Linked DNA regions of Homo sapiens. The protein of the gene in region 2 interacts with the protein of the main gene of each other region in a biochemical or structural test. Each region holds a gene or a part of one and is shown on either strand. Other genes may lie near its edges.

What was found.
Region 1: the proteins of UCP3 (region 2) and RC3H1 form a complex in vitro, tested with the Homo sapiens proteins (one study listed by BioGRID).

Annotation. Positions count from the first base shown.
Region 1 is NC_000001.11:174,012,358-174,019,392, forward strand, and holds part of RC3H1 (roquin-1), read right to left. Parts: intron 1-7,035. UniProt on the Homo sapiens protein: Post-transcriptional repressor of mRNAs containing a conserved stem loop motif, called constitutive decay element (CDE), which is often located in the 3'-UTR, as in HMGXB3, ICOS, IER3, NFKBID, NFKBIZ, PPP1R10, TNF, TNFRSF4 and in many more mRNAs.
Region 2 is NC_000011.10:73,999,742-74,006,085, forward strand, and holds the end of UCP3 (putative mitochondrial transporter UCP3), read right to left. Parts: intron 6,193-6,344; coding exon 5,989-6,192; intron 4,845-5,988; coding exon 4,743-4,844; intron 4,267-4,742; coding exon 4,086-4,266; coding exon of another isoform or gene 4,082-4,085; exon of another isoform or gene 1,999-4,081; intron 1,786-1,998; coding exon 1,671-1,785; 3' UTR 536-1,670; downstream 1-535. UniProt on the Homo sapiens protein: Putative transmembrane transporter that plays a role in mitochondrial metabolism via an as yet unclear mechanism.

The DNA.
Region 1 (7,035 bases), on a different chromosome or scaffold from region 2:
TTATGAAATCTATAGCTATAGCTTCTATAGATTTAACTTATAAAGATATTTTAAATCACATAATACATAATCAGTCTCCAATACCCTCTTCAAAATAACTTCTAAAAGTAGCCCCAAATAGTGGTGATCCCAAGAAAGAACTAGAGCCGGGCACAGTGGCTCACACCTGTAATCCCAGCACTTTGGGAGGCCGGGGCAGGCGGATCATGAGGTCAGGAGATCGAGACCATCCTGGCTAACATGATGAAACACTGTCTCTACTAAAACTACAAAAAAATTAGCCGGGTGTGGTGGCGGGCGCCTGTAGTCCCAGCTACTCGGGAGGCTGAGGCAGGAGAATGGCGTGGACCCAGGAGGCAGAGCTTGCAGTGAGCCAAGATCACGCGACTGCACTCCAGCCTGGGCGACAAGAGTGAGACTCTGTCTCAAAAAAAAAAAAAGAAAAGAAAAGAAAAGAAAGAACTAGAATAAGGAGATCTAGATTCTAATACCAACTCTGCCATTTATTAGTGCTGAGATCTGCACACCTCTGCTAAATATTCAAAAGGTTTAGAGGAAAATAAAAAACAAAAAGATGATTCCAGAGTTTAAGGACAAAAAGGATCAGACTATTATAGAATGCTGCAACATAAATTCTTTAAAAAAAGAAGGATCAAAAACAAAATAAAATTTTAGAAAATTAAAAAAAAGAAGAGCAGACTAAAAAGAGATGATGCTGTGATGGAAAACCTAGGAAACCATACTATAATGGACAACATTTGAAAATAATGGTTCTTTGGGGGAGTAAAGGATTTTAAATAACCAATTGAGGGTTGCTGATAGTACAAGCAACAAAACAAAATAGATAATGCATTGAAAATGTAGGCTTGAGGAAAAACTGAGATCATATAAACAGGAAAGTTCTCCATGAGAGTGAATGGAAGTGGAGAATTGAACCTTGGGGGAATCATATATATCAGTGCTTTCCAATATGGTAGCCACTAGGTACATGTGGCTATTGAGCCCTTGAAATGTGCTGGTGAGACGGAGGAATTAAATTTTAAATAAAATTTAAATGTATCCATACAATGGAATATTATTATTATTATATATATATATTTTTTGAGACACGGTCTCACTCTGTCGCCAGGCTGGAGTGTAGTGGCGCGATCTCAGCTCACTGCAACCTCCGCCGCCTGGGTTCAAGCGATTCTCCTGCCTCAGCCTCCCAAGCAGCTGGGACTATAGGTTCACACCACCACGTGTGGCTAATTTTTGTATTTTTAGTAGAGACAGGGTTTCACCATGTTGGCCAGTATGGTCTTGATCGCCTGACCTCGTGATCCTTGGCCTCCCAAAGTGCTGGGATTACAGGCGTGAGCCACCATGCTCAGCCACAATGGAATATTATTAAGCAGTAAAATAAATAAACTGTGAAGCCATGAAAAGACATGAAGAGGGCCAGGCACAGTGGCTCACGCCTATAATCCCAGCACTTTTGGGAGGCCAAGGCAGGAGCACTGCCTGAGCCCAGGAGTTCAAGACCAATCTCTATTTTAAACAAAAACAAAAGAAGAAGATACTGACGAAGAGACCTAAATGCATATTGTTAAGTGAAGATGCCAGTCTGAAAGGACTATATACTATGATTCCAACCACATGACATTCTGGAAAGGTAAAACTATGACTGTAAAAAGATCAGTGGTAGCCAGAGGTTCAGAGGGATGAGGCAGAGATGAGTAAGTGGAACATGGGACATTTTTAGGTCAATGAAACCATTCTGCACGATTCTAGAATAGTGGATGTATAATGTTATGCATTTGGCAAAACCCATAGAACTGTCCAACACAAAGGGTGAATCCTAATGTGAACTATGGACTTTAGTTAATAATGTATCAACACTGGTTCCTCAGTGATAACCAACACACCACACTAATGCAAGATACTAACAGAGGAAACCGTGGGGGACAGTATAAATGGGAACTGTGTATTTTTTTGAGCAATTTTTCTGTAAATCCAAAACTGTTCTAAAAAAAAAAATCTTTCAAAAAACTCAAATTTACATAGCCACATATAGTTAGTGGCCAGTATTGAACAGCATAGGCCCATATAAATAGACTGATGTGGGAAGAAAATGAGAATGGCATATGAAGAATTACTTCATTTCTGACTACCACTCCCAAAAGTACACATACAGTTAACCCTAAACTATATAAGGTTTTATATGTAGCTTCTATATTAACATTTTACAGTAGAACTTGATCAAAAATATTCTGGATGAATATCTTTCTAATTTTTGTTAAACAGAATTTAAGGAGGAAAATAACATTCATTAAAGGTGTCAGGTACTATACTAAAGATATTATTATTTACATTTCCAAACAACCTTTAGATAAAAGTATTACCATTTCTGTTTTTAGAGATGAGGAATTATAATGCTTAAGTCATAGAAGATGAGAACCTAGATATACTGGACTCCAAAGTGTATGTTCTATTTTTTTTAGCGAGGTCTATATTCTAATATACACCACTCTACTGTATATATGTTTATGATTCCCAAAATTACAAACATAATTTTCCCACAATGAATTTTCCATCAGGAGCAATACTTTATATATAGCACAATATAACAGTTAATGATATACTCAGAGTCTAATGAGGTGTTGTATAGGTAACTGCTGTCCCTATTTTAAACAGCCTCAGGCTAATGTGACTTTTTTCCTGCCACCCAGCTGGCCCTCCATCCTACCTATATGGCTCTACTCCAACATCTAATTTGCACCTTTTAATCTGCTGTGGGACGAGAAAATAGATAATCAAATTCCTTGAATTATGTACAAAGCAAGAGAACTTCTAAACCAATATGTTAGTGCAGATGATTTAGTTCATTAATTTTTCTGATAATTATAGGCCTTTTTTTTTTTTTTGGCCTACTTCTTAATCTAAACTGAGACCTGGACAAATTAAATACTGTTCTATAATAAAGCTAAGAATTTAGTGATTCTGTTTCATTCAAAAGTTTTCCACTACACTTTTTTTTTTTTTGAGACAAGTCTCGCTCTGTCGCCCAGGCTGGAGTGCAGTGGCATGATTTCAGCTCACTGCAACCTCCTCCGCCTCCTGGGTTCAAGCAATTCTCTGCCTCAGCCTCCTGAGTTGCTGGGATTACAGGTGCCTGCCACCATGCCCGGCTAATTTTTTTGTATTTTTAGTAGAGATGGGGTTTCACCATCTTGGCCAGGCTGGTCTTCGACTCCTGACCTTGTGACCTACCCGCCTCAGCCTCCCGAAGTTCTGGGATTACAGGCGTGAGCCACTGCACCTGGCCTCATATTTTATATATATATATATATGTTTTAATACAGATGGGGTCTCACTATGTTAGCCAGGCTGGTCTGGAACTCTTGGCCTCAAGTGATCCTGCCACCTCGGCCTCCCAAAGTGGTGGGATTATAGGTATGAGTCACCGCCTCCTAGCCTATCCCATATTTTTCATGGATATAGCTCTAAACATCACCTCATTTAAAGACATTATTTTTATTTTTGTATTTGTTGACACTATCTACTTCAAGATAAAAGTTCGGCCGGGTGCAGTGGCTCATGTCTGTAATCCCAGCACTCTGGAAGGCCGTGGCAGGTAGATCACCTGAGATCAGGAGTTCAAGACCAGCCTGGCTAACGTGGTGAAATCCCATCTCTACTGAAAATACAAAATTTGGCCGGGCATGGTGGCATGAGTCTGTGATCCCAGCTACTTGGGAGGCTGAGACACAAGAATTGCTTGAACCCAGGAGGCAGAGGTTGTAGTGAGCCGAGATCATGCCATTGCACTCCAGCCTGGGTGACAGAGCAAGACTCCGTCTCAAAAAAAAAGTTATTTTTATAATTTAAATGTATTAATTGAGTACATTAGCTTTCCACTAAATGTTAGTCTAAAAAATTAATGAGGCATATATAAAAACACAGAAACATGTATTTACAAAAAGTTGACATTTTCCTGAAAAAAATTACAGAAAACCAGAAATTTTACTGCAGAGTTCTAAATATTCTGACATAATCCTTTTCCTTATCATTTTTTAAGTTTCCTTTTTTTTTTTTTTTTTTTTGAGGTGGGGTTTCACTCTATTGCCCAGGCTGGTCTGGAACTCCTGGCTTCATGAGATCCTCCTGCCTTGGCCTCCTAAAGTGCTAGGATTACAGGCTTGAGCCACTGTACTCAACTTAAGTTGTTCTTATAACTAAATTATAATTATGTATATTAATAAAATTTTCCTTAAGGAGGGGAGATTAATAACAAAATTTTAAATTTTTTTTGTACTTAGATCTCCTATAACCCCATTAGAAATATTTACTAAGAACATAAAGTGACTTTTGTTTCTCATAAATTTTAAGATTTCAATTCAATTAGATAAAGTACCATTTTGAATTTAAGATAACAATATATTTCTAAAGCCCCAAATGGAAATGTCAATCTTAGCAGTAACTCTAAAGTCCAAGTTTATTACCCTTTATTCTAGAAAGAAAAAAAAAAACTAATTTTGTCTCCCTCAGTCAGCCAATTAAAACAATCCAAAAAAGCTTACTAAACAACTGCCTTTGTAACACTGTTCATGTTTTTAGAGGTGATCAGGTATAGGGCCAAGATCAAGGTTTCTAACACTTATTCAACAAGGGATTAAAAGCAGAGTGCCACGCAAATCAAAACTCTAAATATTCTCAAAGATTAGCTGAATAAAATAGTCATAAAGTTAGATTCACAGGGATCAAAGAGCTTCAAATTCTAAAAATCGTTTCCCAGTGTAACTTCAAATAAATCCTTTGTGAATATTCCTAGTTTCTTCTATACATTAAGAAAACCTAAAAGGCAAACAAGTTCTAGATAGGAGACCAAGTATTAGTTGTTCACATTTGTATAGAACATTAAATTTTAGTTCTTATAACCCAATGAAGAAATACAAATGAGTCTAAGAGTTTGAGCAAAACCCTCTGGGGTGATCAAAACAAAACTGCAAACTTCTATGAGTCTCAACTTTTCTTCCATAAAGAGTCCCTGGCAGCATGTCTACTGTACTTAGAGAAGCATGCAAAGAATTAGGTGGTTTTTTATTCCTAACAATCACATCCCAAAGTTTTTTCTGCAATTTCAATTGTACAGAGTACTCTTCCTCGATGTTGGCTCAAATTAGAGACAGAAAGCAGAATGGCGTTTGCTAGGGATTAGGGAAGAGGGGAATACAGAGTAACTGCTTAATGGGTACAGTGTTTCCTTTTGGGGTAATGAACACATTCTGGAATTAGAGCTGGTGGTTGAACAACATTGTGAATGTATAAAGTGCCACCTAAACTGTTTACTTTAAAATGGTTAATGTTATGTGACTTAACCTCAATAAAAAAAATTATGTTAATCTGTAGATAAAACTGACCCCTTTAGAACTCTTTTCTTGCTCAAAAAAAAAAAAAAAAAAAAAAAAAAACTGCTACCATGTTCAAATGCTATTTAGATCTTGGAAATTTTTTAGATAAAATGCACTTATAAGTTAAATTATTACCACATGTGCACAGTAATAATCAGTGAAGGTATACCAGTGTCAGTTTAAAACATTGTTATGCCTGTAATCTCAGCACTTTGGGAGGCAGAAGTGGGAGGATCACCTTGCTCCCAGGAGTTTGAGACCACCCTGGGCAACACAGCAAAATGCTATCTCTATAAAAATAATAAAAATTAAAAAAAGTAGCCAGGTAAGGCGGGAATAACACTTAAACCAAGGAGTTTGAGGCTGAAGTGAGCTATGATAATGCCACTGCACTCCAGCCTGGGTGACAGACCATGAGTGACTCTGTCATTCATTCATAATATATACATACAGCATTGCTAAAATGCTTGATAACTGTCAAAAGAATATTGCTCTGACATACATCTGCAAATAAGTAAGGTGACTTTAAATTTGAGGAAAATTCTTTCCCCAAGCCTCAATCAGGAAAACAATATAAACTAATAAGAAGTATCTAATAAACAAAAAGTAAACAAGAATATTATATAAGTAAACAGGCACAATCCTGACCAAAAATGGACAGAAATAAATATGCTAAAGTTAAGTGTCTGGGGGATGTAGGGCAACATTACTTCAGATTGGTAAATGTCACACTTCAAAAATAGAAGGAATCTACCTTAAGAAACTCTGTAGTAAGAAAACCTCCTTTGTATAAATGCCTGACAAAATTAATCTTTTATCATAACCTCTAAAGCTAGTCCAAATCCAGCCTAGATTCCAGAATTACACAAAAGAAAAAATCTTGGAGACGGTTCTGGGAAAAGGCTGACCAAAATCTGTGACTGTTTTGATACAGGCCAATCTGAGAATTTTAATCCCTCTGAACCCAATCCTGCAGAATACCTGAACCCTGAGCACAGACGGGGCCAAAGCTAAACCAGGTCAGAATACCCTGCCAAGGAACATCCTGATCTGAGGTGTTCACCAAACAGGGATCATTTATCAGTTTATTCTTCACTTTGTTGGATGCTGACCATTTTCAAGATATATGCAAGAGTGGACTGATTAGACCCATCAGAATCCATTTCAAGCCCTAAGATCTGGAGATGAAAAATACTGCAGAATTCTAAATTATCTATGGCTTAAAGAAAAAAAATTATAAATTAAGAACTTCAAATATTAGCTGACCCAACTTTAACATCATTGAATATCTTTAATTATTTAAAAAAATTTATAAAGTATTTCAAAGGCACAATTTAGTAATTGCCTATGTAACAAATTAACCATGAAAACAATTACAGCAGTATGATAAATCTGTCCTATGTAAACAGTATGAGTTTTTATATTTTATAGCATTCAGATATGCTAAAAACAAAAATTTAAGTGTTTCTTTTGTGATTCACATGAACAAATACTTTCTTGGTCTTACAAGTAGATATCTGACAGGATACAAATAATGATAATAGGGTAAGTTCACAGGCAAAAAAAGGAATCTGTCAACACAGAAGATGCTTCAAAGTTTAACTGTGACACATGTGGTAGTGGCAAAGAATCTAATTTGTGT
Region 2 (6,344 bases):
CTGCAGCCCTGAACTCCTGGGCTCAAGCAGTCCTCTCGCTTAAGCCTCCCAGGTAGCAGGTGCACACCACATGTCTGCTTTCCAAGGAGTTTTAGGTCAACCCTCACAACAAGCCTGTGAAGCAGCGATTGTTATTCCCACTTCTCTGGTAGCACACCAAGGTGCAAGGATTCCCTGTGGCTAGGTGGTTAGTAAGGTAGAATGGGGTGAGGTTTGAACCCAGTCCTGACAATCATCAGAGCTACGCAAGGCTGCCAAGAAGTAGAAAAAGATAGTGGCATTTTGGGTCCCCATTATCAATTCGAAAAATGTACAGTCTTAAGCTTGGAAGTCGGTCGTCTGGTTCAACCCTGCCTTTTGCAGAAGCAGGAGCTGGAACCCTAAAAAAATAAAGCTACTTGCCTGCAATTAAACAGGGTGAGAGGGGGCAGATGAAGTGTAGGCATGTGGGGCTGGATCTGGCCCTGCCCTGACACATAGAAAGCCTGAAATAGAAGTGAGAAAGGAAAATTCCAAGAAAGAAAAGGCAGAGAAGTGGCTGTTCTTACTCCCACACCTAAGGTGTGAATTCTTTTATTGAGTCATAATAATTTCCCGAGAATTCCGAGTCCTGCTACTTTAGGTTCTTGCCCAGGAATCCACCTCTTTTCCCCCAAGCCCAACAATCCTTTGAGGTACTCATGATTGAGCACGTGGTGGGGGGGGTGGGGAAGAGGCTGCATGGGGGTGGGGCTCCTGTGGCTTCACGTCATCCACTGTCACCTCTGGTCCCCAAGTCTCTGGATCCTTTGGTCTCACCTCTAGACAACCGTATCTTTCAAACCTTCTTCCCTGGCAACTCCTCTCTGTCCCGACAAAATCTCTCCCAAGGCATTGTCCTTGTAGTTAGATTTACACAGAGCTTTTGCTTTTATAAAGTGCGTTCATGCCCAGCTTCTCACTTGCATGTCATAGCACCCCTGGTGAGGTGGACAGGGAAGGGATGGCTCCCTCCATTTTGTAGGAAAGTGGGGGCTGCCCTCTTGATTCTTCAGTGTCGTCAGGGAATATTTACGAGCCCCAGCCTCACATGGGCCCAGCAGGGCTTCTTTAGCACAGGCTCTAGTTTTTTCTCTTGTTCCTTGGGTTTCCTAGAATCCCAAAGGACTCTCTGTGGCAGACATATTACAAATAGGCTGATGATGCATGTGTGATGGTGCAGCTGCAGTCGCCAGCTCTGTGTTGCTGGGTGGCATCCCTCCAGGCTCCGTGGCTGATCTCCCACTCCATTGTGGGCCCCTCCTGTCCCGTGCTTGCCATCCTTCCTGCTTATCATTCATTATCTAACCAGATTTCACGGGGATACACGTCTCCAACCTTCCATTTTGTCCAAATGGATCTATCTTGGTTTATTTTCTCTTGCCTAAATATTAGGCATGCCTAATGGGTTTCAAAAATTAATATAATTTATTTTCCATCTTGTCAGTGCAAAACAAAGGTGTTCTTGAGGCATGGCAGTGAAGACCAGAATCCCTCCTCCTCTTCTACTTCTGTTTCTTGAATCAGCAACAAGTAAACAACAGTTCTGTAAACATGTGTGGGTCTGTGTCCATGTGTGCGTGGATGCACCGTTTTCTTCCATTCTTAACTGGTTTCGGACACGTTAGCTACCAGTGGCCTTCTTGTCTTGTTCAAAACGGTGATTCCCGTAACATCTGGACTTTCATCAGGGCCCGTTTCAGCTGCTCATAGGTTACGAACATCACCACGTTCCAGGATCCCAAACGCAAAAAGGAGGGTGTAAATCTGATAAGAAAAACAACCAACACATCAGGTGGAGTGCTAGGGGACCACAACAGATGCGTGTGCTCTCCCGGGACACAGTGGTAGTGCCAGAGGATCCAGACTTCTGTTCATCACAAGCATTTTCTGAATCCTTTCAGTCTCTCTCTCTCTTTTTTTTTTCTGCTAAGGGGATTTAGGCAGAAGTCGGAGTAAGGAAAAGAAAAAAAAACTCACGTTTTGAGACGGGTTACTGTGTTAGGCAGCGAATTCTCACAGTTCTATAAGGCAGCCATGTTGCTGCCAGGCTCTTTTTCACAAACTGAGGCCCAGGGAGGTTAAGAGCTCAACCAAAGACCCGCGGCTAGTAAGTGTCAGAGGTGCGGTTCTAACTCCACCCTGCTGCTGGGTGTTTCTGGGCTCAGTTACACCCCGGGTGGCCAGCCCTAACATGGCCCCCTGCCAGGACATGGAGAAGCTTGGGCTTTGCAGGGTGAATACAGTGTGGCACCAGATTTAGCTCTTCTCCAGAGAGGCTGGCTGTGCTGTGATGGCATAGCACAGTGTCCCCACCTCAGCTGTGGCTCACCAACTCAGGGAGAAGCCCACGAGCTGGCCCCTGCCCCTCTCTCAGCCTGTCCCTCCACTAACCACCTCCTGGGCCCGTTTGCTCCCACCAGACTCAGCTAGTCACATTCCCTGACGATGCCAGGCCCTCTTCCCTCCATGCCTTTGCTCCTCTTGCTCCCTCTGCCTGGACTGTCCCCTCCTCTCCTCCTTCCCTGGCTGGTTGCTCTTTGCTCTGGAGGACTCAGTTTGGGCACTGTGACCTCATGCCATGGGTTTTCTTGACTCTTGTGGGGACGATAGTACTGTGACAACAAATGTAAACTCTGGAGTCAGACCTGGGTTCAAATCCAAGCTCTCCCAGTTTCTAGCTTTACAATCTGGACACATCACTTAATCTTTCTAAGCCTCAGTTTCCTTATCTGTAAAATGAGGAAAATAACAGTATCTGCCTTGTGGAGTTAGTCGTGCAGATTAGGTGAGTTAATGTTGGACAGCACTCAGCACAGGGCCCAGCATCAATACATGCTCAGTAAATACCACCAACTTATCTGCTGCTCTTTGAGGGAGGCATAACCCAGGGCCTGGCACCTACAAGATGCTCCAGAAATGTTGGACAAGTGAAAGCAGTAACTGAGACAAGTGGCTACAGCTGAAGACTGTAATGATAGAGGCACTTTTTGGAAGAACAGTCTGTCAATTGCAGTATAGTTTTATTACGTCATTCCCAGGCTTGAGAACCTATAGCAGCTCTTGTTCACTTGTTGGGTCCATTCTAACACTGGGCACCAAAAAACTCTCTGTTGAAGACATCAGCAGTGGGAGGTGAAAGGGCCAAGCTAAGAGCTTACCAGTAGGATAAACAACATTGTTGGGTGTGGTGTCTGACGGTCAGGGTTTGAGCCATGGCTCCACCATTTTAACCTGTGATCTTGGATAAGTTACTTAACTTTTCTGACACTCAGTCTTTTCCTTAGTTAATGTGGACAATACTACCCAGTTCAAGGGGCTGTTGGGATAACGTGTGTAAAGTGCTCAGCACGAGGCCTAATATAGAGTGACTTAGCTATTGTGATAATCATAAACAACCTGCATTATCGAGTGCTCACTTTGTGTGAGGGACTGTGGGAGATAAAAGATGTCTGAGCCACTTTTGCTGTCAGGAACTTGCTCTTTGCATGAGGAATAATTTAAGCTTACAAATACTATAATACAAGGCAGGAGGTGATAAATACCATAAAAATGGTATCAAATGGCATTGCAGAAGTTCCCAGGGAGGAGGAAAAATTTACACCTGAGAGTGTTAGGGAGGAGGTGGCATTTGAACTCGTCTTGAAGGATGGCTAAAATTGACAGCCTGTAGATGATGAGGCATTCCACGCAGAGGGAGCAGTAAGTGCAAGAAAACGTGGAGCGTGTGGAGACAGTGAGGAAGGCACTGGCCATGGTCAGTGTGGTGCTCAATGGCCATGGCAGGAGGTCCAGGAGGTCTCAGGATTGCTAACTTCCTCTGGAGACAGGCAGTACTTTTACCTATTCCTGGAGTGTTTGTTCTCAGTCAGGCTTCCCTAACCCTCCCCATCAGGTATGGTTCACTTTTTTTCTTTTACTTGCATGGTTTTTTAAACTTCTTCTTTGTGGCATTTACATCTGTACTCTTCACCGCTACATCCCAGGTTGACCCACGGTAGCCACATTCGAAAAGAAAGAAGCCCCTGTTCTCTGGGAGGGAGTGCTGGAGGCAGGAGGAGGCTCACCCCTTGTAGAAGGCTGTGGGGCCCTCCTGGGCCACCATCTTTATCATACAGTCGAGGGGGCTGAAGTACTGGCCTGGAGGTGAGTTCATATACCGGGTCTTCACCACGTCCACCGGGGAGGCCACCACTGTGGCACAGAAGCCGGCTCCAAAGGCAGAGACAAAGTGGCAGGGGAAGTTGTCTGCAGAGGAAGGACAAGCAAATATCAAGGAGTGCATTTGTGTTCTGTCCATATGTATGCACTGTTTGTCCCCAACTCAACCGTGAACTCCCTGAGCATAGGACAGTATTTTCCATATCTCTCACAGTGCCCTGGGCTAAGCTCTTGGTAAGTACTGGCAAACTAGGCCTGGGCTGACCCAGAGGTGGGAGGTCATGCAGGCTGTTTGAGGAAACTGAAGTCGGAGAAGGTGAGAGACCCCTGCTTAAAGCTATATAGTGAGAGGTGGTGCTGGGACTGGAACCCAAGTCTCCAGCCTCCCAGCCCAGGGGTCTTTCCTGCTTGTCACCACAATGTACCTGGCACTTTTTACTAGGCACTGCTTCTCTCTCTGCTCCTTCTAAAACCCAGTTGCCTCTGGGTGGTGCCCACTCCACGGAGTTCTGGGTTCCCTCCCTGCTGAGGGAGAGCTGCCTGCCTGGAGCCCAGGGCCTCACCAGTGAGCAGGTGGTAGTCCAGCAGCTTCTCCTTGAGGATGTCGTAGGTCACCACCTCAGCACAGTTGACGATAGCATTCCTCATGATGTTGGGCAAAGTTCCTGTTAGGAAGGCGGTGGGGAGGGATGTGAAATGGGTGGGGAGGGAGGAATGGGAAATGGGAGAAATGGATGCCCTGGCTGCAAGGCCACAGGCCCCAGTTTTGGGGCCATAGTGCCCCATTCCAATGGTCTCAGCCAGAGGATCCCACCCCAGCTGAGCAGATTCCACATTTTCCTTTCTAGGGTTAACAACTCTCAGATTATCCATGTTTTCCTCAGAGACAGAGAACAGAGAGGCCCACTTGTGTTCATTTGGCCACATTTGGAGGGTGATCTGCAATAGCTGTCAAAATTAAAATATGCTTCCTGGAGACCCAGCTGCAGCCAGAAAAGAAAGTCATTCAGCGAGAGGCTGAGCTCTTGGAACAGTGACAGAATGTGGTGCCAGCAGGGCCCTAGGAAACTGTCAGGATCAAACCCCTGGTTTCACAGGTAAGGGGACAAGCTCTGAAGGGTGCCCAACAAGTGAGTGAAGAGCCCCAACTTAAGAGGTGTCCTGCCCTTAAACTTCACTGGGTCAGTTTCTTCTGCAAACGTTCCTGCAACCTCTGGTTCACATGCGGAGAGAGTCCTGCATTCATCGCAGTGGCTGCCATGTGGACACATAGGGAGCCCTCCAGCTTTGCTCCCAAGGAAGCGCTTCCTCGTTGCATCTCCCTGCGCCCACTCCTCACAGCTGTGCTTTTCTGATGCTCCTCTTTTTCCTCCGGACCCTGCTTGAGGGCCCCTCCCCTTCCGTCTCCACACACCTAGAGCCTGTTCAGTCTTCCAGGCCCAGCTTAGGTGTCACCTTCTCTGCAGAGCCCGCCTCTGGAGCTCCACCTCTGGGGCAACCCCTACCACATCCTGCCTGTGGTGTAGCTGCATCTTATCTCCTCTGCTGTCCTCATGCCCTGGGCGTGTGAAGGTGTCTTAAGTTCATTTCTGGCTCCCTCACATCAACCTGCACATGGCAAAGGGCTGGTAAAATGAACTGAGTTTGAGGGGCTGTGGCAGGTCAGTGAAGTATCTTTGGTTGTGATGTTCTTTCAGAATCACTGGAACACGCCATGCTGGGAGTCCCCTCCTTACTGGGGTCCCTGCCCCAGCCTGAGGGGAGGGAAAGCTCTGCCTAAGACCGCCTGCGTCCAGAGTCCAGACCTACCTTTCCACAGGCCCCTGACTCCTTCCTCCCTGGCGATGGTTCTGTAGGCGTCCATAGTCCCGCTGTATTTTCTGTCGCTCCTGGATGGCCCGAGGTGTATGCTGGCCTGAAATCGGACCTTCACCACATCTGTGGGCTGGGCACAGGTCACCGCCATGGCTCCTGTGGTGCAGCCGGCCAAAATCCGGGTAGTGAGGCTGGAGTCTGGGAGGGGCAGAGAGAGTGGGCCAGTGTCCCCTACTAAGCAGCATTCTGGGACATGCTGTTCTCTGCGGGGCTGCCCCTGCAGCTTCCTTGATGTCCACTCAGAGCCTCCTCATAAGCGTCCGGTACCAGCTTCCCCCCGCCCCTGGCTC